7 linked regions of the Homo sapiens genome follow. The protein of the gene in region 7 purifies or fractionates together with the protein of the main gene of each other region. This does not show direct contact. Each region holds a gene or a part of one and is shown on either strand. Other genes may lie near its edges.

Region 1 (3,500 bases), on a different chromosome or scaffold from region 7:
CTTTCCCCAGGCGAGAAACAAGGGGTTGGAGTTCATCTGAGAGCCCCGCCAACTCTCCCACTTCCCCTAACGTGTGGTTTCCAGTGCCCTGTGGTTTCACAGGCTCAGTGTGACTTGCTGGGATGATGGCAAGTGATCAGTGGTGGAAGTTCAGGCATAGAACAGAGAGGTACAAGACCAGGTGTGGTGGCTCACGCCTGTAATCCCAGCACTTTGGGAGATCAAGGCAAGCAGATCACTGGAGATCAGGAGTTCGAGACCAGCCAGACCAACATGGTGAAACCCTATCTCTACTAAAAATAAAAAAAAAATTAGCTGGACGTGGTGGCGCAAGCATGTAATCCCAGCTACACGGGAGGCTAAGGCAGAATTGCTTAAACCCAGGACACGGAGTTTGCAGTGAGCCAAGACTGTGCCACTGCACTTCAGCCTGAGTGACAGAGTGAGACTCTATGTCTCAAAAAAAAAAAAAAAAAAAGAGAAATACAGAAGGAAAAGGGTCTTCCCACTTGCCCCTTTTCTCCTCACCATGTCTCAAAGCCCCAGGGGCCCATCTCCTGCCATCAGGCCCTCCCCCCAACCCCTTGCTGGGGAGGAAGCAGGGCTTGACAGACAGGTTCCGCCATCCAGGAAGTACAGACTCCCTGACCGCACTGAGGGCCTGGTGTGACAAACTCACACATGTCACCCTTCAGAAGTGCTTGAAAGACTCACGCTGTGGCTTTCTGTTCCCCAGGCCTAGCTCCCTTGTGTCTGGCCTGCGAGCACCCCCTTGAAGGACCCACGGCCTCCTCCCCTCTCCCAAGGGCCCAGCTAGGAGGTATGGGGAAAGGTTCCACACAAGGAAGCAGTTCCAGGAACTGGAAACGCCCGTCCTAGGGCAGCCCTGCCCACCAGCCCTGCCCCCACCCTGGCCAGCTCCCACGGATGTGGTAGGCAGGCAGCACCCGTTCTGCCTGAGCACACTCACCACACTCTCAGTGCCATGGGACTGGCCAGACCCACCCAGCCACACGTATAGCAGAGTGCAGGCCCTAGTTACCCAGAAACGGCTTCTTATGCACGTATACCATCACACACACATACCCGTGCTCATAGAATCTAAATATTCCTGCTTTAGCCAGTCACAAACTCACATGCCCCTCATCCCCTACCACTTACAGCTCAAACTCAATTCCATGTGAACCCAACCCATCCCAACACCCCTCCGTGTGTGTGCATGCCACAGGTTCATGCACACACAGCGGTATGCAGCCTCTGCAGCCTCCATCACTGCTGTTGGTCCTCCCTATCCCTTCCAACCCACTGAGGTCTAGCAGAAGAAGAAGGTGTGGGCAGGCACACTTGCCAAACCAAAGCCTGCAGTCCCAGAAATGCCCACCTATTCAAATATGCTGGGCCTGCCTCCTGGTGCCTTCCTTCCCATTGCTGTGGGTGCTCAGCCTCTAGCCATCTTTTCCCCTGCCCTGTCACAACCTGTCCCAAGTCAGCAGGCATCTGATGGAGGCCAGGCTCCAAGGGGCGAGGACAGTTGGTAGGGCAGAGGCAAGCCCTAAGGATCTGCTTGTCCGTTCCAAGGACGCCATGCAGGGCAGTGAATAGAAACCTGAACTCTGATTCTGGACACAACTAAATTCAGGTCCTAGCTCCACCCCTTATTTCCAGTGTGACCATGAGCAAGTTATTTCATCTGTGAGTTTCCATGGCCCCATTTCTAAAGTGCAGACATTAGCAGGAGCTGCTTCACAGTGCTGCAGGGAATCAGTGAAACAGTGCTTGGTGTCATCATCCCTAAAATCACCCCACTGCACACTGGTGGCCTGAAGGCTGTGCAGACCACTAACAGAGTCTCCCCAAGCCTTCAACCCGTAACTCAAAATCGGGGCTCCTGCCAGGTATCAATCCAATCTCCCTACCTACCACACCTTTGCACTCACTACACACCATCTCCCACCCCTCTACGCCTTTGAGATGCTACTACTCCTGCCTGGAAGGTACCCCTGGCCTTATTGCTGAAACCTTTCGAGATCCAGGTTTCCCTGACTCCAGGAGTTTGTCTTCCCTGAGGAAGACAGTTGATTCACACCATGGTCTGTCCCAGAGCCAGTGCCAGGGATACCTGGTGAGGAAATGGAGGAATCGAACCAAAGGTGTTAGGCTCTCCTCTTAGAACCCCTTGATTCTGCTGGGGGCAGACAGAAGGCAGATTTTGACAAAAAACAGAGTAACAAAATGCAAAGTGTTCTTCTGTGGACGAAACTAACCCCAGAGGAGGACTGGTTGGGAACGGTAATGCCCCGTTTATCAGGCTCCACCAAGAACAGGCTGCTCTGAATGAGGGTGGATATGGGAACGGTCCAGATAAATGGCGCTTGCCCTTCTGAGGGTCCAATCTTTCCTGACCCATTATGGGGTGAAAATGTGAAGAGATTTCACTTTGCTCTCCTGAGCAACCAGACCTACAAGCAGGGCTGCAGGGCAATGGTGTCTGCCCTTGGGGCTCTCTCCAGGGGCAAGGAGAGGTGTTTGTCCCTGTGCAGACTGGCTCCTGATGGCTAAATTTCTGCATTCCATAGTTCTAAGGTATTCCCCCAACCCTCTGTGGTTCAGAGGCTTGTCTTGTACAACTCTCCACACCTCTTTTGAAATTTGCCAAGAAGTCAGCAAATGGAATTTGTTTGAATTGTATACAAAGAAAGAGTAAATAGGTGCTAAGTAAGGCTTGAAACTACCTAAATAAGCTTGAAGATCTCTTGAGATGTTGGGGCAACTGACAAGAGGGCTGTGTGTAAGTGAGGTGTGACCAGAGCTCCACCCTGAGTTACGTCTCCTGCCTGTGGTCACACAGTCAAAGGGACCCAACCTTGTCCAGGGCTGGCTCCTGGACGCTGCCTAGCTGCTCTGTTACTCAGACCACTTTATGGGGTGGAGGAAGGGTGAGCAGCCAGCTCTCTGCATGTTCACCTTGGCCTAGACCCATCCTCTCCAGCCCACAGCAGCACTTCCTGGCCAAGCTGAGGCTGGGGAGTGGGTTTCTGCCTCTTGATGCCTGAGATTTCTGGGAAGAAGCCACGCCTGGTTTTCCAATTCCTACTGCTGGTTCCGGTGCTCTGTGCCCTCTCCTCCCTGGGGATTCGTATGGGGTTCCACGCTGACTCTTGGCCCAGGAAAGGCAGGGGGATGCTGGAGAATGAGAAGAACCCTACATGGGGAAAAGCTCTGGGGTCACATCCTCCCTAGAAGTGTCTGGGTGCACCTCAGGAAAGAAGAGTCTACTTATTATGCCCTGACAGGATCCCACAGGCCCAATCCCGCCGGCTCCCAGCAGCCTCCGCAACCCTGGGTCATGTGTGAGGTGAGACCTGGCACGTGCCTGTTCTGAACGCTCCCACCTCACATGCCCGTCCCAAGCTTAGGATTTAAACACTTGATGCTGCCACCACCCCACATCCATCCATCACCAGGTCCTCTCGATTCTGCCTCCGAGTCTGTCCTACTTC
Region 2 (2,706 bases), on a different chromosome or scaffold from region 7:
ATGACTGTCCTGTTTCATTTCAGACATACCGGCAGATCAGGTTAAATGAGTTATTAAAGGAACATTCAAGCACAGCTAATATTATTGTCATGTAAGTAATATCTTTATAAAGATTTTCTTGCTAATTTATGATAATATGCTTTGAATTAATTTCTATTCCAAGTACATATCTATATAACACCCATATTGACTTAGTGGTTATAAGGAGGAAAAAACAAACTTGTAAAAATATACTATGCTTTAAGCATATGGAGAAAGACAAAAACTTTAACCTTATGCTTATATGAATCCCAAGTAATCTTTTTATCATAGTAGGTTATATTGGAACCTTTTGTTTACCCTTCTTCTCACCTTTTTAAAATTCCTTATCTTTGTAAACACTACAGCATAGCCGTTAAGCACGTGTGGATAGGAGGGTCCTACGTTAAAATTTGGGCCCCGGACAGCTTCCTCTTGAAAATAATTCAAAAAATGTTATTTGGCAGATTAAACTTGAATAGTGATTCCTATCTGGATCCCCATTCTTATGTTTCCAACACGCAAATTTTACATACAGACACATTGTCCTTGAGTTAAATATGATACTAAATGCCTACTTTGGCTCTTCCTCTACTGAACTAGGTTAGCTATTCTTTGAACCCACATTTTCTGAGTTCTGGAACATGTGTCCTTAGATAGGAAAGCTCAGGCCTCTCCCCCACAAAAAAAGCCAAGTAATGAAAAAAACTACCAAAAGATTGTTAGTTTAACAACATTCAATAAATCAAAAAGTTTCAAGTTTTGCTGATGATAATCAAATACCTGTAAATGGAAAAGACACCAAAACATAGAAATTTAGAGAAAAACTATACAGCAATTGGTCACTGCTGCCACCATCCATAAATAGAAATTAAAACTAAGAGAAGATAAAAATTGCATTTATCCATATATAGCTTCTGTTTTCTAAATTTTGATAGTAAACATACCTTTCACCTAAAAGAATTCTATTCTTATTAAAGAAGGGGAAACCTAGGATTTAGTGTTAGATATCAGAGGTACTGTGGTTTATAGAAATACTTACTGTTCTTATGAACAAATTTTGAAAAATCTTTTGTTGAAAGATTATAGTCTTTTATATATGCATATATGATGGTGGTACCATAAGATTATAATACCATATGTTAAGCTGGGCATGGTGGTGTGCACCTGTAGTCTCAGCTACTTGGGAGACTGAGGTGGGAGGATTGCTTGAGATCTGGAGTTTTGGAGTTTTGAGTCCAGCCTGGGCAATGTATTAAGACCCCATCTCTCTTAAAAAAATATATATATATTTTTACTGTATCTTTTCTGTATTTAGATATGCAAATGCTTACCATCGTGTTACAGTTGCCTATAGTATTCACTACAGTAACGTACTATACAGGTTTGTAGCTTAGGAGCAACAGGCTGTGTCATATAGCCTAGATGTGTAGTAGGCTATACCATCTAGGTTTGTGTAAGTACTCCTGTGATGTTTTCACGAGGGCAAAATTGCCTGACAGTAAGTTCTGAGAAATGCGTCTCCATCGCTAAGCAACACAACTGTGGTTGTTATTCTATTTGCAGAATTCTCCTGCACTCAGAAATATTCTGTAATTATAGTAATTTACAGTAACTGTTATTGTAATCTACTTTATAATTTTTGCTACATTTTATTCTGTAAATGCATTGCTCAGGGTTTTTTTTTTTTCTTTTTCTCTTTTTGATACCAGGAGTCTCCCAGTTGCACGAAAAGGTGCTGTGTCTAGTGCTCTCTACATGGCATGGTTAGAAGCTCTATCTAAGGACCTACCACCAATCCTCCTAGTTCGTGGGAATCATCAGAGTGTCCTTACCTTCTATTCATAAATGTTCTATACAGTGGACAGCCCTCCAGAATGGTACTTCAGTGCCTAGTGTAGTAACTGAAATCTTCAATGACACATTAACATCACAATGGCGAATGGTGACTTTTCTTTCACGATTTCATTAATTTGAAAGCACACAGGAAAGTTGCTCCATTGATAACGTGTATGGAGACTTCGGTTTTAGTCAATTCCATATCTCAATCTTAATGGTGATTCTTCTCTGTTGAACTGAAGTTTGTGAGAGTAGTTTTCCTTTGCTACTTGAATAGCAATAAAAGCGTGTTAACTTTTTGATTGATGAAAGAAGTACAAAAAGCCTTTAGCCTTGAGGTGCCTTCTGAAATTAACCAAATTTCATCCATATATCCTCTTTTATAAACTTATAGAATGTCAAACTTTGCCTTCAACTGTTTTTATTTCTAGTCTCTTCCACTTTAAAACAAAATGAACACTGCTTGTCTTCTTCCATTGACCATTTAGTGTTGAGTACTGTATGTGTTTTGTTAATTCTATAAAGGTATCTGTTAGATATTAAAGGTGAGAATTAGGGCAGGTTAATCAAAAATGGGGAAGGGGAAATGGTAACCAAAAAGTAACCCCATGGTAAGGTTTATATGAGTATATGTGAATATAGAGCTAGGAAAAAAAGCCCCCCCAAATACCTTTTTAACCCCTCTGATTGGCTATTATTACTATATTTATTATTATTTATTGAAACCTTAGGGAAGATTGAAGATTCATCCCATACTTCTATATACCATGCTTAAAAATCACGTCATTCTTTAAACAAAAATACTCAAGATCATTTATATTTATTTGGAGAGAAAACTGTCCTAATTTA
Region 3 (4,172 bases), on a different chromosome or scaffold from region 7:
TGAAGAGCTGGGGCTACTCGTGTCATTGGCATCCACAGCTGGGGGTACCCTGGCTGTAGATGCGTTAGTTTGTGGAGCTGCTTCTCCTGGGACATTGGCCTTGGATCTCAGAGCAATGTCTTGGTGAGGGGCCCTACCTTGTGCACTGTCACCAGCCAGGCCTGCTGCCCTCAGGCAGAAAGCCTTCTATTTTTGTTCCAGCTTAAAGAATAAGAGGTGACCAGCCGGGTGCAGTGGCTAACCCCTACAATTCTAGCACTGTGGGAGGCCGAGGCAGGCAGATCACCTGAGGTCAGGAGTTCGAGACCAACTCAAGCGGACGTTGGCGGGCGAAGTCACGGTTTTCCAGGCTGGAAAACCAGCAGGCCGTGCAGGGGAGAGAACTGGTACCATGGACATGCGGGAGCTGAATCTGCAGGAAGGTGGACCCCAGGGAGGATGCGTGGGGTGGAGAGAGTAGGGAGAAGTCGAGAAACTCCAGGGCAGAAGCCAGAAGGGCCCAGGGAAGACCACCAGGGACAGCGAGCGAGCCAGGGCCAGGAATGGGCGCCGGGGTGCCCAAGAGAGAGGTCTGATGAGAGCACGATCACCAAGCGCCAAATGCTGCCTGCGAGGACCCAAAGCGCACCTCGGATGTAGTGAGCAGGCCCCCGGGACCAGGTTTCGGTGGGTTTGAGAAGGAACGAGCTGAAGAAGTGGGGTGACAGGTTCAGACGTCTTGGAGTGAACGGGAACCGGCTGAAGAGGCGCACGTGGGGTGGAGGGAGTCTGTTTAGCCAGGCTGTGGAGCTGGCGCCTGATGGCTGCCGGGAAGGACCTGGTGCCAGGGAAGAGCGAGGCAGGGGCAGCTGGCAGAGGGAGGCCCGAGGGGAGGCGGACCCGAGGCTCTAGGCCAGGACCAGCAGGCCGGGGAGTCAGGGGAGAGTTGCCTGGGGCCCAGGAGGCTGCACTGCAGAGGCCTCTGCATGGGCTCCACATGGGCCACTCTCCTCCCCCGGGTGTCTTCACCCCCAAGCTCAGCCTCTCCCCCAGGATCTCCCACACCCTGGCTACTCCGCTCCAGCGCCCAGCCCAGACACCCCTTCTCCCCAGGTACCACTGCTGGCCTGGCCTGGCCTGAGTCATTGGCCGCCCTCTCCAGGCGCCTCCTTGGTACGCACGCAGCCGGGCCGGATTCCCGGGCCTGCAGCCGCTCCTCCCGCAGACCGCGGCCCCGCCCCGAGCCGCACCCACCGGGTTCGGCTCACTCCCTGTGAGGCGCGTCACCATTGGCTGACTCCTCTCTTGGGTTCCGCCCCACACCTCCGCTTCCACGATTGGACCAAATGACTGCCCCTCAGCAATGTTGCCTGGCAACAGGGAAGGGGCGGCTCTCGAGAGGAGCCCGTGGGCTGCTGGACCGGACCGGACAGCACCAGGAAGCCCGGCAGGGTAGGTACCTGGGCTGAGGTTCGCAGTGAGCTGACCCAGAGGCGCAGGCCCAGCTGAGTCGGGGGACTGGAGCAGACGGGTCCAGAGTAGGCCTGGGCCCTGCCCCTCCCTGGCCTCCCACGCCTCTTCAGGCCCTCGGGTCGGGGGAGGGAGAGGTGAAGGCTGCGGGGAGGTGAGGGGTGGGGACAGCGGGGCGGGATGGAGGGAGGGTCTCCTGGGGGGGATCAGAATCATCCTGCACCTCCCGCTGTTTATGTGGTCAAGGTAAGAGGGTGGCGAGGTGCTTCCCCCAGGGCCAAGGCCAGCCGTGTTGAAGGGGGATTCAGAGCCTGTGTAGACGCGGAAAGGGAGGGGTGCCTCCACGGAGGAGGCGAGTCTGGGGTAGACACTGAAGTGTGTGTGGAGGGGGTTTTCCTTCTTGTATTCTGACCACACCCATCTGGGCTTTTCCAGGACAGTGAGCTGATAACTGTTCCCAGGCCATGTAGGTGGCCAGCACAGGACAGGTCACCTTCTGGCCCACAGGAACTTCTTGCCCAGGCTCAAGCTGCCCCTTCGCACAAGGGCCTCTGGGCTCTGAGACACAGACAGGACTTCGAAGCCTGTCCAGATGAGGCAGTTGGAATCTCCCCAGCTTGTGGGGGTACGGAGGGACCCTTGTGTGGCTCTAGGGATGCGGGGCCCTTGGAGTAGAGAGTTGGAGCTTGGCAGCCAGGGTGGGAAGCAGCCATGTAACAGCCTGTTGGAGAAGCTCTGAGCAGGAGGTGACTAAGCCATTCCTAGGATACTAGTGGGAACCTTGGGGGCCATCCTGCAGACAATCGGTCCCTGTCCACCCCTCCATCACGGAGGCAGAGCAACCTTCCGTTTCTTCCAAGCAGGGCAGTTTCTCTTGTTCTAAGACAAGATCCCAAGGAGCCATTCTCTGTTGTCTTGGGCCCATTATTCTGTCTCTGACCTCCAGTAAGCAGATCAAATGCCCTGGGTTACCTTATTTAATCTTCTCAACCTTATGTTAAAGAAATTAATTAATGATGCTTATTAAAAGCACATTAATTATTGAAGACCATTGCAATGGGTATAGGGACCACAGCAATGGGATTTTGTAGTAAAGGAGAGAGATTGGGCTCAACTCTGATTATAGCATGGGCAAGTGGGAAGCCAGGAAGCAGGGTGGGGATCAGTGGATGGAAGATGACTGAGGAAACATCAGGGCGCTAGGGTGGATTCTGGGTAAGCTTACCTAGCAGTTTGTTACTGAAGGCAGGCCAGGGTGATCAGACATCACCTAGGGCAAGCTCGTCCAACCCGTGGGCCATATGTGGCCTAAGGCGGCTTTGAATGACATCCAACACAAATTCATAAGCTTTCTTAAAACATGAGATTTTTTTTTTACCATATATGTAGATATATGCACTTATCAGTTATTGTTAGTGGGTTTTATGTGTGGCCCAAGACAGTTCTTCCAGTGTGGCCCAGGGAAACTGAAAGATTGGATATCCCTAACCTAAGCATTAAACCTGGTTAGATAGCAAGTGAACAGATAATGGTGATCAAATATCAAGGATGAGTGGTTTTGTGGGTTTTTTTGTTTGTTTGTTTTTTGTTTTGCTAAAACCAGATTTTACAAAGAGGTACACAGATGGGCCCAGGAGCCTGACTAAAGTCTGGTCAAGCAAAACATCTTGGTCACTTATTATGGGCTGCTGGAACTTTTGTTTGTGTTTTTATGAGACAGAGTCTTGCTCTGTCACCCAGGCTGGAGTGCACTGTTGTGATCTTGGCTCACTGCGACCTCTGCCTCCTGGTTCAAGCGATCTTCCCACCTCAGCCTCCTGAATAGCTGGAACTATAGTCACACGCCACCACACCCGGCTGAGGTTTGTATTTTTGGCAGAGACGAAGTCTCACTATGTTGCCCAGGCTGGTCTCAAACTCCTGGCCTCAAATGATCCTCCCAAAGTTCTGGGATTATAGGCTTGATGATGGAAAGCTTTCAGTCCCTGGCAAGTTTTCTCGGTGTCATGGGACTTTCACAGTACACCTGGGTACATGGGGTGGCCTCTTCTCTGCAAAGCTGTGCATAACACAACCCTACATTGGCCTCGAGACTTCTGTGGGTTCCCTTGTATCAAGTTCCGCTTCCATTTTGTTCCGCTGCCCTACATCCTCAGAAGCCAGGTTTTCTCACCTTCAGCCCTACCGATGTCTGGGACGGACACTTCCTCGTCGTAAGGCCATCCTGTGCACTGTAGGATTTTTAGCAGTATCCCTGGCCTCTGCCTGCTAGATGCCAACGGCACTCCCCTCCCCCAGTTGTGGCAACCACACACTTTTCCAGTCATTGCCAAATGCCCCTGGGGGACGAAACTGCTCCAGTCGAGCTCCACTGGTACAAGCAACCTTGATGTGCGCTGTCAGCACCAGCACCAGCGTGCATTGTCTTTTTTTTTTTTGAGACCGAGTTTCACTCTTGTTGCCCAGGCTGGAGTGCAATGGCATGATCTTGGCTCATTGCAACCTCCGCCCCCTGGGTTCAAGCAATTCTCCTGCCTCAGCCTCTCAAGTAGCTGGGATTACAGGCATGCACCACCACACCCGGTTAATTTTGTATTTTTAGTAGAGACAGGGTTTCTCCATGTTGGTCCAGCTAGTCTCGAACTCCCGACCTCAGGAGATCCACCCGCCTCGGCCTCCCAAAGTGCTGGGATTACAGGCGTGAGCCACCACACCATTGCCAT
Region 4 (3,500 bases), on a different chromosome or scaffold from region 7:
TCCCTGTTCAAGCAGTGTTTCAGGGTAGTCCTGGGATAAATTTAGCAGGAGAGACAATACAGAAAGGGCACTTGGGCCCTGAAATATAAAAGCTTCCTAAAAAAGACAAAAACTGAACATAAAGTATCTTCTTTCAGTTTAAACAACTTTCTGTAATCTTACTCTACCTTCTCTCTCTCTCTCTCCTTATTTTTTTCCTTTGTTCCACTTTTCCACCCTCTTCCTACTCATCCATCTCCAATACCTGATATTGTCCTCTTTTTCTTGCCACTATTTTCCTGTACCCCACAGAGACAGAGGTAAGAGTGAAGCTCTAAGTCCTACCTTTGGCCCTGGGGACAAGTAGCAGCAGTGGGATTCTTCTCTACCTTCCCACTGTAATCTCCCAGCTGGTCCAAGAGGGGAAAAGGTGGACTCTCAGCTCTGTAGGATGAATAGAACAAGAGCCTTTGGGCATGGTAAGTGGGTTTTCCTTTCCCATGCCATGAAAATCCCACTCAGTTCATCTTAGGTAACAGTGGGGGCAGATGAACATAATGTATCTAAATGAAAAGACAACCAAACCCAGACCTAAGTGAAAGTATTTCTATTAAAGTTCATTGAGAATATGTTTCAATTTTATTCTTTTCAGTATCATAAAGGGGAATTAAGACTGTATGATGTGACTTTTGAAAATGCCGGAATGTATCAGTGCATAGCTGAAAACACATATGGAGCCATTTATGCAAATGCTGAGTTGAAGATCTTGGGTCAGTATCATTTCTAATTTCTGTTAAACATTGTTAAAGCAATATGTCATATCACACAAAATGTTTATTGAGCCTACACAAAATACCCAGTATTGTGTTAGGTGTACAACATATGTTGGTTGTTTACTGATTTATTTATTGCTAATTATCATAATTCAGACTAACGAAACAATGGAATAGAATGAATCTTTGCCACAACAAAAGTCTTCTTCAGAGCATCAGCAGCAGTGGCCATACCTAGGAGCACATTAGAAGTGCAGAATCCCAGGCTCACCCCAGACCTACTGAATGGACACTTTAAAAAGATACCCAGATGATTTTAATACAAAGATAATTTTGAGAATGACCAGACCAGAGGATGAAGAGTCAAAACCCAGATGAAGATATGCTTAGGCCTAGAAAAGCCTCCAGAAAGTACATAGTTACGGATGATTGTAATGTGTTGAAATATATGGATGAAATCTGCTTGGAGTCTGCCAAGGGAAGAGGAGAGTGAGCAGTGGATTAAATGTGTGGATGCTGAGGAAAGTCTGAGCATGACATCAATGAAGTAACCTTTTTTAAGCCTCTGTATTCTGTTCTAATAATTATTGCTCTGTACTTGGAGGTAATGATGAACTACAAATGATCATGTCTCCTTAATTAGTTGATTAGATCCATTATTCCCATAGCTGTTTATAGATAGATCCTGAAAGCAGGACTCCAATTATTTTGGCATTTTGCAGGGTGTTTGCATACAGATGATGCTCAGTAATTGTATAAAGAAGGAGAGACTGCATTGTTTAATGAAAAGTACATGCTTTGGAAACAGAAGGACCTAGATTCAAATGTGACTCCCACTTATTACTACCTGTGGTACCTTTGCCAAATTAAATAATCCTAATAGATTTCAATTTTCTCATTTATAAACTGGGAATAGTTCATTCAACATGTGGTTTAGAGGATTGACTAGGACCATATGTCAGTGTGTATAATGCTGGTCAATTTTTTCCAGCCTTTCACTTTACTTTCCTTGTGGAATTGAGTCAAAGCAACAGAATTCAGAGTTAATTTTAAGGTAAATGTGTATAAAACATTTGATTGAAATTGAAGTTATTTATTTATTGAGACAGGGTCTCACGGTGTTGCCCAGCCTGGAGTGCAGTGAGGCGATCACGCTTCACTGCAGCCTTGACCTTCTAGGTTCAGGTGATCCTCCACCTCAGCCTCCTGGATAGCTGGGACTACAGGCATGCACCAACATGCCCAGCTAATTTTTTTGTATTTTAGGTAGAGATGGAGTTTTGCCGTGTTACCCAGTCTGCTCTCAAACTCCTGGGTAAGCCATCTGCCCACCTCAGCCTCTGAAACTGCTGGGATTATAGGTGTGAGCCACCCATGCCTGGATTCTAATTAAAGTTTCTAATAATCAATTCAGTTATCATCAAGAATTGTACATTTGAATTGGGTGAATTTTATAAGTCAAAGTTATTAAATAAAAGTTACAAAGCATTAGGTATAGAATGCCTATTGGTGACAGCTGATCATATTTACCGAGATTAATCCTTTCCATTAACTATTAAGGAGAATAAAAGATTCTACAACACAGAAGCAATGTTTAGGCTTTACAAACAGAAAGAGAAAGATAACAATTTGTTTTCTTTTTAGCGTTGGCTCCAACTTTTGAAATGAATCCTATGAAGAAAAAGATCCTGGCTGCTAAAGGTGGAAGGGTGATAATTGAATGCAAACCTAAAGCTGCACCGAAACCAAAGTTTTCATGGAGTAAAGGGACAGAGTGGCTTGTCAATAGCAGCAGGTCAGTGCTGAAACTAGAAATCCAATTGCAAAATCTGTTTGAAAAAGTTTATTTTATAGAAGACTTGTTTATATGTTAATAATGAAAATGTTTTTTGCTCTGAATTTTTTTTTTCACAGAAGATCCTGTAGTTCTAAGATGGACAGAAATACCTATCCCTGTCAGTATCTATTATAATGAAGGTTTAATTAACAGGACTCTATAATGTATAAGGAATTTAGAAAATTGAAGCTCAGAGGTGTTTTTTTGTTGTCTTGTTGTTATAAATTGCCCAATGTCACACAGCTAATAAACAATGGGAAATAAAGTAGGATCTCTCTAACATATTTTTCCCCAGTATAGGCATCTGGCATCTATATCCATTCATATTCAACTGAATTTTGTGCAGTTAGCCTATTAAATATTTTTGTAGAAAAATAAAAAGGTGATTTCAAAGTGCAAATAATCTCTTCCTATCTCAAAATGAACAAGATGTTATCATCATCTTCCTTATAAATGGACCATCTACCAATGTTTTGGTGGTTTGGGGACAAAATGAAAAAGCAGTGTACAACTTATATAGATTATTTGTATAAAAGCCACACTGAATAGTTTATATGTATCCTAGAAGAAGTAATATTGAGTGCAAAAATTATGACGAGGAGAAAGCCAGGATGGGAAATGGGAGGGATGGGATGTGTGGGTTGGCTTGAGGGTGTATGTGAGGGTGTATGTGAGGGTGTATGTGAATGTGAGGGCAGCATGTACAAAGGCCCTATGGTGAGGAGTTTAGAATGTGTAAGAAATTGCAGAAACTGAAATCAGTGTGATTTGTCTTTAGAGGAAAATGGAGGAGACTTTTAAGAGATGAGACATAGTAAGCCACATCATAAATGACAAAGTTTTCTATGCTAAGGGGCTTGGGCTTCATCTAAGAGTAATATAAATCTGTTTAAAGTCTTAAACAAGGGAGG
Region 5 (4,218 bases), on a different chromosome or scaffold from region 7:
TACTTTGAATAATACTAACTGTACCACAAAGACACCATAAGAGAATTTTCTTAGTGTCAAGTAACTTTAACATTGTGTGCCAAAAAGAAAAACAAAAAAGGATATTCCAATCTTTTTATTTTCAGCCTACTTTCCCAATAGAAAAGATCAAGCTTCTGTCAACTTTCTGATTTTTCCATCTTCTCAAGTAGTGAAAATATTTTGTCATAAGGAGTCACACTTTTTTTTAATTAAAAAGAAATTACTAGAACATAGGCATTGTTTCTGTAATAAAAGGACTTTTTTGTGAGACATTAGTTGAAAATCGGGATTCATATAACGAATTAAATATGCTTATAACTCCAACCTGTCCTTAGGATTTGCTTGTCAATTTCCCCAAATTTGTCCTAGTTATCTGCATTTTAAAATAAACCCATTGCTGAAAGTCGTGGTGATTCAATCCATTAAGCCACTGGAAGTATAATCTAAACTAGCTTTTACCTGAGTTGAATAATTTCTGGTGCAGTAATCAGAATAGCTGTCTATGACTGGGATAGCAAAATATACTTTCATTACTCTGTATCCAGGGTCCTTGATGTTTAATTTATGTGATCATACAAACTTAACCAGAGACACAAAGTCCTACATTGGCCCAAGTATGATTACATACTTAGAGGATCTGATAACTTAAAACCAGTGAGGTGAGCAACTAAATGTCAGAGATAGCATTTTTTATGCACAGGAACTTGTTCAACTCGTTAACCATCCCTGTTAAGACGGCTGCCTTGTAAAATAACCACACACAACTTCCGGCCCTTCCTTTTAGCTGGGTTCATTTGAAGCCATTTTAAAAAACATTACCAGGTTTTCTGTCTTGAAGATGAGCATGGTTATACAACCAGGATTTTATTCTGGCTAAAAAATACCTAACAGTGAGAAAGGATGTCTCAATACATTTTTAAAAAAGCTTCAAGAGAACCACTTTAAAATGATCTTCCTACCACACAAAAACACCATCAGGTAAATCAGCCCTCTATACAAGAAGATTTGGCAAATCAAAAGCATAAGATCAAATCTGTAATAATTAACTTTCTGAGTAAAATTACTGTGCTACAGCTTACTGCAACAAAGCCAAAGTATTACAAGATGGTATTATAATGACATCATTAGCTTGGTTTCCTAATAAAGCATATATCTGGGATATCTGAATTTACAATGCTAAAAACAGAGACCCAACATTTGTAGGAGGGAGTGGTAGGCAGTTCTTATTTATAATTTTTTTTTTTTTTTGAGAATGATGCCCGCTGCAAAACGAAGTAACAGAAGGCTGGCTCTGAAACACCACACTTCTTGGTCTTAACGTTAAAATGCTTTTCTAGAGCAGAAGGGAAAAAGAGTTATCAGTGCTTTCGTCCCACAAAAATAGTTCCTGTTTCACTAAATTTTACCACTGCCTTTAGAATTAGTAAATGAAAACGCCAACTTGTAGAAGCATTAAGTTAATGCGATTTAGAAATTAAATAGTAACCGGCCTCATCACACAGATAAGGTTAGGCTTCTTCAGCCAGGGGCAATTTCTGTCCTAATTGTCACAGCTGCCTTAATGCTGTACTTTCTGCGCTGTAGCTGCCAGGAGGCAGATAAGATTTTTCTCTCTGAATTAATTCTGGGAAAGGTGGCACTTTTTATAGGCCTTAAATGACCCTTTTCTAAGATTTTTTGTTGGTGGTGTCCAGATGTTCCAATAATACTGGAGAGTTAACTATTCCTTCCAAACCTGTGTCGTTCAAACTGCCTTGAGGAGAACGGGAAAAAAGTAAGGTTCACACTCGAAAAGTTTCACTCGGGGTGGGGTGAGGACGAGGTAGGAAGGAAACGACAGTACGTATCGTTCGTAACTATCGTACAATACGTATCGTTTCCGAAGCTAGACCGGCAGCTGGCACAGTCTTTCCCCTTTCCAGGTCCTGGGGAGAAACGTCTCTCGCTGAGGGGGCTAGACACCTACGACAGCCTCCTCCTCGGGAATCAACACAGCTCTGGATCGTGACACGCTTCCAGAAGTCCGTGACGAGTGGGGGCAGAAGACAGGTTCTTCGCTTCCCCTTCACCCAAACACGTCCCAAATTGTTCGAGGCAGGAAGAGCACGCCTCTCTCATCTCCCCAAGACCTACTCTCGCTCAGCTCCCTCGCCCTGTTTCCTCTGGGGGCACCGCCACCCCGCTCGGGACTCCCGCCTCTGGCCACAGCAGCCCCGGAGCGGCAAGGGGGAAGAAGTAACGGAGAAGCGCCGGCTAGAAGCGGCCGCCTCCGGCCGCTCGGCGCCAGCCTCGGCGGCCCGGGCTTGGAGGCGAGACGAGCCCGGGAGCCGCACGGGGCTTCTCCGGCTCTGGGCCCCGCGCCCGTCTCCGCTGCGGCCTAGCCGGGCGCCCACGCCCTGGCCTCCCGGCTCCGCGCCGCCGGCCTTTCCCCGCCACCCCGGGCCGAGAGGCCCCGCGGGGGCGGACGAATGGAGGTGGAGGGGCGGGGGCACCTACCAGCTGCTGCCGGATCCAGCGCCACATTCCCCCGTCGTCGCCGTCCGGGTCCCGCGGGGCGCGGGGGCCGCGGGGCTGCAGGTGGAGGCCGACAAGACAGAGGCGGGAGCGGGCGAGCCCCTCGGGCCGAAGTTCCGCTTACCGCCGCCGCCGCCACTGCCTCACTCCCCGCGCCGCGTCCCCATCCCGCGGCGTCGGCCCCGAGTCCTACAGGCGCGGCCCCGGCGCCGCCCCCGCCCGGCGCAGCTGAGCCTGCCGCCGCGCCGCAGCCACCTTCATTATTGACCGTTGTCACCCAAAGCACCCCCGCAACCCCACCCCCGCCCCGCCCCGCCCGGCCCCCCGGCTCCACCCGGGACCGCCCCCGGCGCCCCGGCCCGCCCCCGGACGTGACGAAAGGGGGTGCGCGGACCGAGGGGGGCCTGGCGCGCCCCGCCGCCGTTCCGAGTTGGGGGGTTTCTGTGTTGTGGGTCCGGGAAGAAGCGAGCGTGGAAAGGTGCCGGGTTCTCGAACGCTGTTTCTGTCCACTGCCACCCTCCTCCCCGTTCTGGGAGTGGGATTAAGTCGTGTCTGTGGGTCTGGCCATCTCCGGAGTCTGCAGCTTGGGGCCGATTCCTCGGTCTCTACCTCCTGTTGCAGGTCTTTTTCGGGCTCTGTGGCTTCTTTGGTTCACGCGTCTCCCGACACGCATACGCACAGTCCTGAACGTATGTGACTGAAAGTTAATCCCCCCAGAAGTCCCAGTTTGGGTTCCATCAAGCTGTAAGAGCTTTCGTCTCAACACAAGTCAGGCCTCTTCTTTAGCAAATGGCTGAGACGGGGCTAGGGAAATCTTGATCACACCCATTAAGTGATTCGAAAGCGTTGCAAGTCCCCTGAGCCTGGTACAGCCTGGACCCGTGTTTCTAGGCGAATGGATGAGATATTCTGTCTTGCCGTGTGCTAAATTGGACAGGTTCAGGGGAAGATAATTTGTATAAAAAGGTAGTTCTTTACTGCTAACTGCCAAACTTCTGCAATCAAAAACACCCGTAGCAGTAACTTGACCTAGGTTAAAAAAGTGTGTGGATGACAAGCTCAGAAGGAATATACAAGCAACTGGAACAAGGCTTTGACTTAAAGGTTTGGCGTTGTTTAAAAGCAGCCCCGTATACATATTGTGTTATGTATATGTATTGAATGCTGTATTTTTGCTGAATTAAAGCACACTTCACCGACAGACGTTTGTGGTTAAAAAAAAAAAAATTAAGCGGCCGGGCGCGGTGGCTCACGCCTGTAATCCCATGTAATCCCAGCACTTTGGGAGGCCGAGGCGGGTGGATCACGAGGTCAGGAGATCGAGACCTTCCTGGCTAACATGGCGAAACCCCATCTCTACTAAAAAATACAAAACATTAGCCGAGCGTGGTGGCGGTCGCCTGTAGTCCCAGCTACTCGGGAGGCTGAGGCAGGAGAATGACGTGAACCCGGGAGGCAGAGCTTGCAGTGAGCCGAGATGGCGCCACTGCACTCCAGCCTGGGCGGCAGAAGGAGACTCCGTCTCAAAAAAAAAAAAAAAAAAAAAAAATTAAGCAAGAACAAATCTAAATGAGATTAGCATGACTAGGCAGGTCGTTGAATATGCATCCTCAATCTTCTAGTTTCAGTAGACATTTCTTACTATATAATGCTTATCCAGCACCACAAATAGAATCTTTCTTT
Region 6 (3,500 bases), on a different chromosome or scaffold from region 7:
AGCCACCGTGCCCGGCCTAGAGTTACTTTTGAACTTTTTATGTATAATAAAAAGTTTGTGACTTAGCAAATGCTAAGTCTGAAAAGATTGGTGTCAGGCCTCTGAGCCCAAGCTAAGCCATCATATCCTCTGTGACCTACACTTACACATCCAGATGGCTGGTTCCTGCCTTAACTGATGACATTACCTTGTGAAATTCCTCCTTCTGGCTCATCCTGGCTCTGTACTGCCTCAAGGCTTCACAGACAGCCCCCATTACTTCAGTCAAACCCAAATTTCTTCCTCATCTGTTACCTATCTTGTCATAATTCTTCATAAAAACACACGTGCTCTCCCTGCCAATCGTGTCTGACTGATCTCTCAAACCCCAACACCTTCTACAAAACAACTCCTTTCCTTCCTAGGCATGGTTGGATACTTTCGACTTTGGATACCTGGTTTCGCCATCCTAACAAAGCCATTATATAAACTCACAAAAGGAAACCTAGCTGACCCCATAGATCCTAAATCCTTTCCCCACTCCTCTTTCCATTCCTTCAAGACAGCTTTAGAGACTGCCCCCCACCCTAGCTCTCCCTGACTCATCCCAACCCTTTTCATTACACACAGCCGAAGTGCAGGGCTGTGCAGTCAGAATTCTTACACAAGGACCAGGATCGCGTCCTGTAGCCTTTTTGTCCAAACAACTTGACCTTACTGTTTTAGCCTAGCCATCATGTCTCCGTGCAGTGGCTGCCGCCGCCCTAATACTTTTAGAGGCCCTCAAAATCACAAACTATGCTCAACTCACTCTCTACAGCTCTCATAACTTCCAAAATCTATTTTCTTCCTCACACCTGACACATATACTTTCTGCTCCCCGGCTCCTCCAGCTATACTCACTCTTTGTTGCGTCTCCCACAATTACCATTGTTCCTGGCCCAGACTTCAATCCGGCCTCCCACATTATTCCTGATACCACACCTGACCCCCATGACTATCTCTCTGATCCACCGGGCATTCACCCCATTTCCGCATATTTCCTTCTTTCCTGTTCCTCACCCTGAACACTTGGTTTACTGATGGCAGTTCCACCAGTCCTAATTGCCACTCACCAGCAAAGGCAGGCTATGCTATAGTATCTTCCACATCTATCATTGAGGCTACCACTCTGCCCCCCTCCACTACCGCTCAGCAAGCCGAACTCATTGCCTGAAGTCAAGCCCTTGCTCTTGCAAAGGGACTACACATCAATATTTATACTGACTCTAAATATGCCTTCCATATCCTGCACCACTATGCAAGAGGTTTCCTCACTACACAAGGGTCCTCTATCATTAATGCTTCTTTAATAAAAACGCTTCTCAAAGCCGCTTTACTTCCAAAGGAAGCTGGAGTCATTCACTGCAAGGGCCATCAAAAAGGTATCATATCCCATCGCTCAGGACAATGCTTATGCTGATAAGTTAGCTAAAAAAGCAACTAGTGTTCCAACTTCTGTCCCTCAGGGTCAGTTTTTCTTCTTCGCATTGGTCACTCCCACCTACTCCCCCACTGAAACTTCCACCTATCAATCTCTTCCCACACAAAGCAAATGGTTCTTAGACCAAGGAAAATATCTCCTTCCAGCCTCACAGGCCCATTCTATTCTGTCATCATTTCATAACCTCTTCCATGTAGGTTACAAGCCGCTAGCCTGCCTCTTAGAACATTTCCTTTCCATCGTGGAAATCTGTCCTCAAGGAAATCACTTCTCAGTGTTCCATCTGCTATTCTACTACTCCTCAGGAATTTCTCATGCCCCCTCCCTTCCCTACACATCAAGCTCGGGGTTTTGCTCCTGCCCAGGACTGGCAAATTAGCTTTACTCACATGCCCCGAGTCAGGAAACTAAAATACTTCTTGGTCTGGGTAGACACTTTCACTGGATAGGTAGAGGCCTTTCCCACAGGGTCTGAGAAGGCCACGACGGTCATATCTTCCCTTCTGTCAGACATAATTCCTTGGTTTGGCCTTCCCACCTCTATACGGTTCAATAGAGGACCGGCCTTTATTAGTCAAATCAGCCAAGCAGTTTTTCGGGCTCTTGGTATTCAGTGAAACATTTATATCCCTTACCATCCTCAATCTTCAGGAAAGGTAGAACGGACTACTGGTCTTTTAAAAACACACCTCACCAAGCTCAGCCACCAACTTAAAAAGGACTGGATAATACTTTTACCACTTGCCCTTCTCAGAATTCGGGCCTGTCTTCGGAATGCGACAAAATACAGCCCATTTGAGCTCCTGTATAGATGCTCCTTTTTATTAGGCCCCAGTCTCATTCCAGACACCAGACCAACTTGGACTGCGCCCCCAAAAACTTGTCATCCCTACTATCTTCTGTCTAGTCATACTCCTATTCACCATTCTCAACTACTCATACATGCCCGCTCTTGTTTACACTGCCGGTTTACACTGTTTCTCCAAGCCACCACAGCTGATATCTCCTGGTGCTATCCCCAAACCGCCACTCTCAACTCTTAAAGTAAATAAATCATCTTTGCTGGCAGGGCTATGCTGAACCTCCTTAGGCACTCTCTAATTGGATGTCCTGGGTCCTCCCAATTCTTAGTCCTTTAATACCTGTTTTTCTCCTTGTCTTATTCCGTTCTTTTTTCAATTCATACAAAATTGTATCCAGGCCATCACCAATACTTATATAGGACAATTGTTTCTTCTAACAACCCCACAATATCACCCCTTACCACAAAATCTTCCTTCAGCTTAATCTCTCCCACTTTAGGTTCCCACGCCGCCCCTAATCCCACTTGAAGCAGCCCTGAGAAACATCACCCATTCTCTCTCCATACCACCCCCCAAAAATTTTCACCACCCCAACACTTTACCACTATTTTGTTTTATTTTTCTTATTAATATAAGAAGACAGGAATGTCAGGCCTCTGAGCCCAAGCTAAGCCATCATATCCCCTGTGACCTGCACATATACATCCAGATGGTTGGTTCCTGCCTTAACTGATGACATTCCACCACAAAAGAACTGAAAATGGCCTGTTCCTGCCTTAACTGATGACATTACCTTGTGAAATTCCTTCTCCTGGCTCATTCTGGCTCAAAAGCTCCCCCGCTGAGCACCCTGTGACGCCCCACCCCTGCCCACCAGAGAACAAACCCCCTTTACCCTTTACCTACCCAAATCTTATGAAATGGCCCCATCCCTATCTCCCTTTGCTGACTTTCTTTTCGGACTCAGCCCGCCTGCATCCAGGTGATTAAAAAGCTTTATTGCTCACACGAAGCCTGTTTGGTGGTCTCTTCACACGGACGCGAGTGAAAATTCATATTGCCTTAAAGTTTAAACATTATAGAGGACCTGACTGTATTTGCCAACTTGGATTCAGTCTCTTATGGGAAAGAAGTAAAATTGGTAGTATTTAGTAATTTTTTAAAGCTCCCATTTTTTTCTCAAATGAAACCCTGCCAGTGCTTCCAAAACAAATAATGCATATGTGAGCTTCTAT
Region 7 (3,500 bases):
TGCAATCTTGGCTCACTGCAAGCTCCGCCTCCCGGGTTCTCGCCATTCTCCTGCCTCAGCCTCCTGAGTAGCTGGGACTACAGGTGCCCGCCACCACGCCTGGCTAATTTTTTTTTTTTTTTTTTTTTTTTTGTAGAGACGGGGTTTCACCGTGTTAACCAGGATGGTCTCGATCTCCTGACCTCATGATCCACCCGCCTCGGCCTCCCAGAGTGCTGGGATTACAGGCGTGAGCCACCGCGCCCGGCCGCTAGTTCTTTTTTTAAGAGACAGTCTTTACTCTGGCACCCAGGCTGGAGTGCCATGGCGTGATCTCAGCTCACTGCAACCTCCACCTCCTGGGTTCAAGCAATTCTCCTGCCCCAGCCTCCTGCATAGCTGGGATTACAGGCGCATGCCACTATGCCCTACTAATTTTTTGTATTTTTAGTAGACACAGGGTTTCACCATGTTGGCCAGGCTGGTCTCAAACTTTTGACCTCAGGTGATCTGCCCCACCTCAGCCTCCCAAAGTGCTGGGATTACAGGCATGAGCCACCATGCCCATCCCAGGTTTTTCATTTATTTAATAAACATTTTTTTTTTGAGATGGAGTCTCACTCTGTCGCCCAGGCTGGAGTGCAGTGGCGCGATCTCGGCTCACTGCAAGCTCCGCCTCCCGGGTTCACGCCATTCTCCTGCCTTGGCCTCCCGAGTAGCTGGGACTACAGGCACCCGCCACCACGCCCAGCTAATTTTTTGTATTTTGTTTATTACAGACGGGGTTTCACCGTGTTTGCCAGGATGGTCTCGATCTCCTGACCTCGTGATCTGCCCGCCTCGGCCTCCCAAAGTGCTGGGATGACAAGTGTGAGCCACCATGCCTGTTCCAGGTTTTTCATTTATTTAATAAACATTTATTGAGTGCCTACTGTGCACAAACACCGTGCTAGGTGCTGGGGATGCAGCAGTGATGAAAAAAACACAGCCTGGGCCGGGCACGGTGGCTCACGCCTGTAGTCCCAGCACTTTGGGAGGCTGGGTGGGCAGATCTCCTGAGGTCACAAGTTCAAGACCAGCCTGACCAACATGGCAAAACCCCATCTCTATGAAAAATACAAAAATTAGCCAGGTGTGGTGACACGCGCCTGTAGTCCCAGCTACTTGGGGCGCTGAGGCAAGAGGATCACTTGAGCCCAAGAGGTCCAGGCTGAGTGACAAAGTGAGACCCTGTCTCAAAAAAAAAAAAAAAGGCCAAGCCCGCCTGATGGCTTATGCCTGTAATCCCAGCCCTTTGGGAGGCCAAGGCAGGTGGATTATCTGAGGTCAGGAGTTCGAGACCAGCCTGGCCAACATGGTGAAACCCCATCTCTACTAAAAATACAAAAATTAGCCAGGCATGGTGGTACACACCTGTAATTCCAGCTACTCAGGAGGCTGAGGCAGGAGAATTGCTTGAACCTAGGAGGCGGAGGTTGCAGTGAGCCAGGATCACGCCACTGCACTCCAGCCTGGGTGACAGAGTGAGATTCTGTCTCAAAAAAACAAAAAAGAAAGAAAGAGACAGGGTCCCTAGTATCTTTGGGATTGCCATGGGCCAGAGAAGATAGAAAATGCTAAGAGGATTTTCGAGAAGTGCAAGAAGGAAAATGAAACAAAGGTCATGGAAATGGCAGTTGTGTGAGAGTCTGCTTCCTAGACCATCACTCAGTTGGTCAATCAATATGTATTAAGCACCCACTGTATACCATGCACTGAAGGTCAAGCTCTATGAGGGCGAAAGTTTTCTCTGCCTCACATACTACTTTGTTTATTTATTTATTTATTTTTAGAGATGGCGTCTCGCTCTGTCACCCAGGCTGGAGTACAGTGGCATGATCTCGGCTCACTGCAACCTCCGTCTCGCACGTTCAAGCTATCCTCCCACCTCAGCCTCCTGAGTACCTGGAACTACAGGTGTGTGCCACCACACCCGGCTAATTTTTGTATTTTTAGTAGAGATTGGGTTTCGCCATTTTGGCCAGCTTGGTCTCAAACTCCTGACCTCAGGTGATCCGCCCGCCTTGGCCTCCCAAAGTGCTGGGATTGCAGGCGTGAGCCACTGGGCCCAGCCAGTTTGTGCCTATTATCCCAGCACTTTTGGGAGAGTGAGGCAGGAGGACTGCTTGTGGCCAGAAGTTCAAGACCAGCCTGGGAAACATAGCAAGACCCTGTCTCTACCAGAAATTTAAAAATTAGCCAGGCATGGTGGCATGGGCCTGTAGTCCCAGCTCTTCTGGAGGCTGAGGTGGGAGAATCACTTGATCTCAGGAGTTGGAGGCTGCAGTGACCATGATCACACCACTGCACTGCAGCCTAAGCAACAGAGCCAGACTTTGTCCCTACAAAAAGAAAAAAAAAGATATATTTGTTGAACCCTGAAGGCCTGACTTCCACTTTCTCAGGCTCAGGGCAGGGATATGCAAGAGCCCTTCAGTGGTTTCGGGTGACAACTCCAGGCATGTCACCCACCCCAGGGCATCCCACTCCAGCCCAGCTGCGACCTGATATTTATAGGCCCAGCAGGTCCTAAAAGCATAGAGCTCAGTTTAACTCAGGAGGGACAGACAAGCCAAGCCCAGGACCCACCTCCATGCCAAAACAATAAATCAAGCAAAAAAAGGCCAGGTGCAGTGGCTCACGCCTGTAACCCCAGCACTTTGGGAGGGCAAGACGGGCGGATCGCCGGAGGCCAGGAGTTCAAGACCAGGATGGACAACATGACAGAACCCCATCTCTGTCAAAAATATAAAAATTAGCCAGGTGTGGTGGTGCACGCCTGTAGTCGCAGCTACTCAGGAGGCTGAGGCAGGAGAATCGCTTGAACCTAGGAGGCAGAGGTTGCTGTGAGCTGAGATCACACCACTATACTCCAGACTGGGTGACAGAGTGAGACCGTGTCTCAAAAATAAATAAATATAAAAATAAAGCAAAAAAAAAAAGAAGAAGAAGGAAAAAAGATTCTAGAACCTTCTGATGGCATCGGTGTGTTTTGCTTTCAGATAATTGGTTAAGTGCAGGCAGCCACACCTTTGACTTCCATTTCAACTTACCTCCCAGGCTTCCTTCTACCTTCACCAGCAAATTTGGCCATGTCTTCTATTTCGTACAAGCTTCCTGCATGGGCAGGGAACACATTTTAGCCAAGAAGAGGATGTACTTATTGGTTCAAGGAACTTCCACCTTCCACAAAGAAACCCCATTCCAGGTACCGATGGGGGAAAGGTGGAGGTGGGAACAATCTCCAAGCTCCAAGGAGGAAGAGGGAAGGTGGGCAGGCAGGGGACAGAGAAGGTCCCATGGGGAGAAGGGAAGGGTGTTGGCAGCTTCCCAGGCCCCGAGATTTCACAAAAGGTGAGTCAGAAACCTTAGGGCAGCTGGAGGTCAAGGCTGCAGTAAGCCATGTTTGCACCACTGCACTCCAGCCTGGGCGACAGAGTGAGACCCTGTCTCTAAAATAAAATTATATATATGTGTGTGTG

Evidence for each region.
Region 1: the proteins of ARRDC5 (region 7) and SLC2A1 purify together in Homo sapiens (affinity purification with mass spectrometry; one large-scale study listed by BioGRID and IntAct). This does not show direct contact.
Region 2: the proteins of ARRDC5 (region 7) and SLC12A2 purify together in Homo sapiens (affinity purification with mass spectrometry; one large-scale study listed by BioGRID and IntAct). This does not show direct contact.
Region 3: the proteins of ARRDC5 (region 7) and MEAK7 purify together in Homo sapiens (affinity purification with mass spectrometry; one large-scale study listed by BioGRID and IntAct). This does not show direct contact.
Region 4: the proteins of ARRDC5 (region 7) and CNTN1 purify together in Homo sapiens (affinity purification with mass spectrometry; one large-scale study listed by BioGRID and IntAct). This does not show direct contact.
Region 5: the proteins of ARRDC5 (region 7) and ATP11B purify together in Homo sapiens (affinity purification with mass spectrometry; one large-scale study listed by BioGRID and IntAct). This does not show direct contact.
Region 6: the proteins of ARRDC5 (region 7) and ABCG2 purify together in Homo sapiens (affinity purification with mass spectrometry; one large-scale study listed by BioGRID and IntAct). This does not show direct contact.

Annotation. Positions count from the first base shown.
Region 1 is NC_000001.11:42,931,369-42,934,868, forward strand, and holds part of SLC2A1 (solute carrier family 2, facilitated glucose transporter member 1), read right to left. Parts: intron 1-3,500. UniProt on the Homo sapiens protein: Facilitative glucose transporter, which is responsible for constitutive or basal glucose uptake. Has a very broad substrate specificity; can transport a wide range of aldoses including both pentoses and hexoses.
Region 2 is NC_000005.10:128,184,766-128,187,471, forward strand, and holds part of SLC12A2 (solute carrier family 12 member 2), read left to right. Parts: exon of another isoform or gene 1-23; coding exon 24-91; intron 92-1,730; coding exon 1,731-1,866; 3' UTR 1,867-2,706. UniProt on the Homo sapiens protein: Cation-chloride cotransporter which mediates the electroneutral transport of chloride, potassium and/or sodium ions across the membrane. Plays a vital role in the regulation of ionic balance and cell volume.
Region 3 is NC_000016.10:84,501,860-84,506,031, reverse strand, and holds the start of MEAK7 (MTOR-associated protein MEAK7), read left to right. Parts: upstream 1-1,372; 5' UTR 1,373-1,431; exon of another isoform or gene 1,432-1,603; intron 1,604-1,884; exon of another isoform or gene 1,885-2,074; intron 2,075-3,273; exon of another isoform or gene 3,274-3,311; intron 3,312-4,172. UniProt on the Homo sapiens protein: Activates an alternative mTOR signaling through RPS6KB2 activation and EIF4EBP1 repression to regulate cell proliferation and migration. Recruits MTOR at the lysosome, essential for MTOR signaling at the lysosome.
Region 4 is NC_000012.12:40,936,939-40,940,438, forward strand, and holds part of CNTN1 (contactin-1 isoform 1 precursor), read left to right. Parts: intron 1-631; coding exon 632-749; intron 750-2,396; coding exon 2,397-2,547; intron 2,548-3,500. UniProt on the Homo sapiens protein: Contactins mediate cell surface interactions during nervous system development.
Region 5 is NC_000003.12:182,792,086-182,796,303, reverse strand, and holds the start of ATP11B (phospholipid-transporting ATPase IF), read right to left. Parts: upstream 2,801-4,218; 5' UTR 2,545-2,800; coding exon 2,518-2,544; intron 1-2,517. UniProt on the Homo sapiens protein: Catalytic component of a P4-ATPase flippase complex which catalyzes the hydrolysis of ATP coupled to the transport of aminophospholipids, phosphatidylserines (PS) and phosphatidylethanolamines (PE), from the outer to the inner leaflet of intracellular membranes.
Region 6 is NC_000004.12:88,152,140-88,155,639, reverse strand, and holds part of ABCG2 (broad substrate specificity ATP-binding cassette transporter ABCG2), read left to right. Parts: intron 1-3,500.
Region 7 is NC_000019.10:4,896,397-4,899,896, reverse strand, and holds part of ARRDC5 (arrestin domain-containing protein 5), read left to right. Parts: intron 1-1,811; coding exon of another isoform or gene 1,812-1,935; intron 1,936-3,020; coding exon 3,021-3,226; intron 3,227-3,500. UniProt on the Homo sapiens protein: Plays an essential role in spermatogenesis. May be involved in the anchoring of the sperm head to the tail during spermatogenesis by affecting SEC22A-mediated SUN5 and NDC1 transport and localization.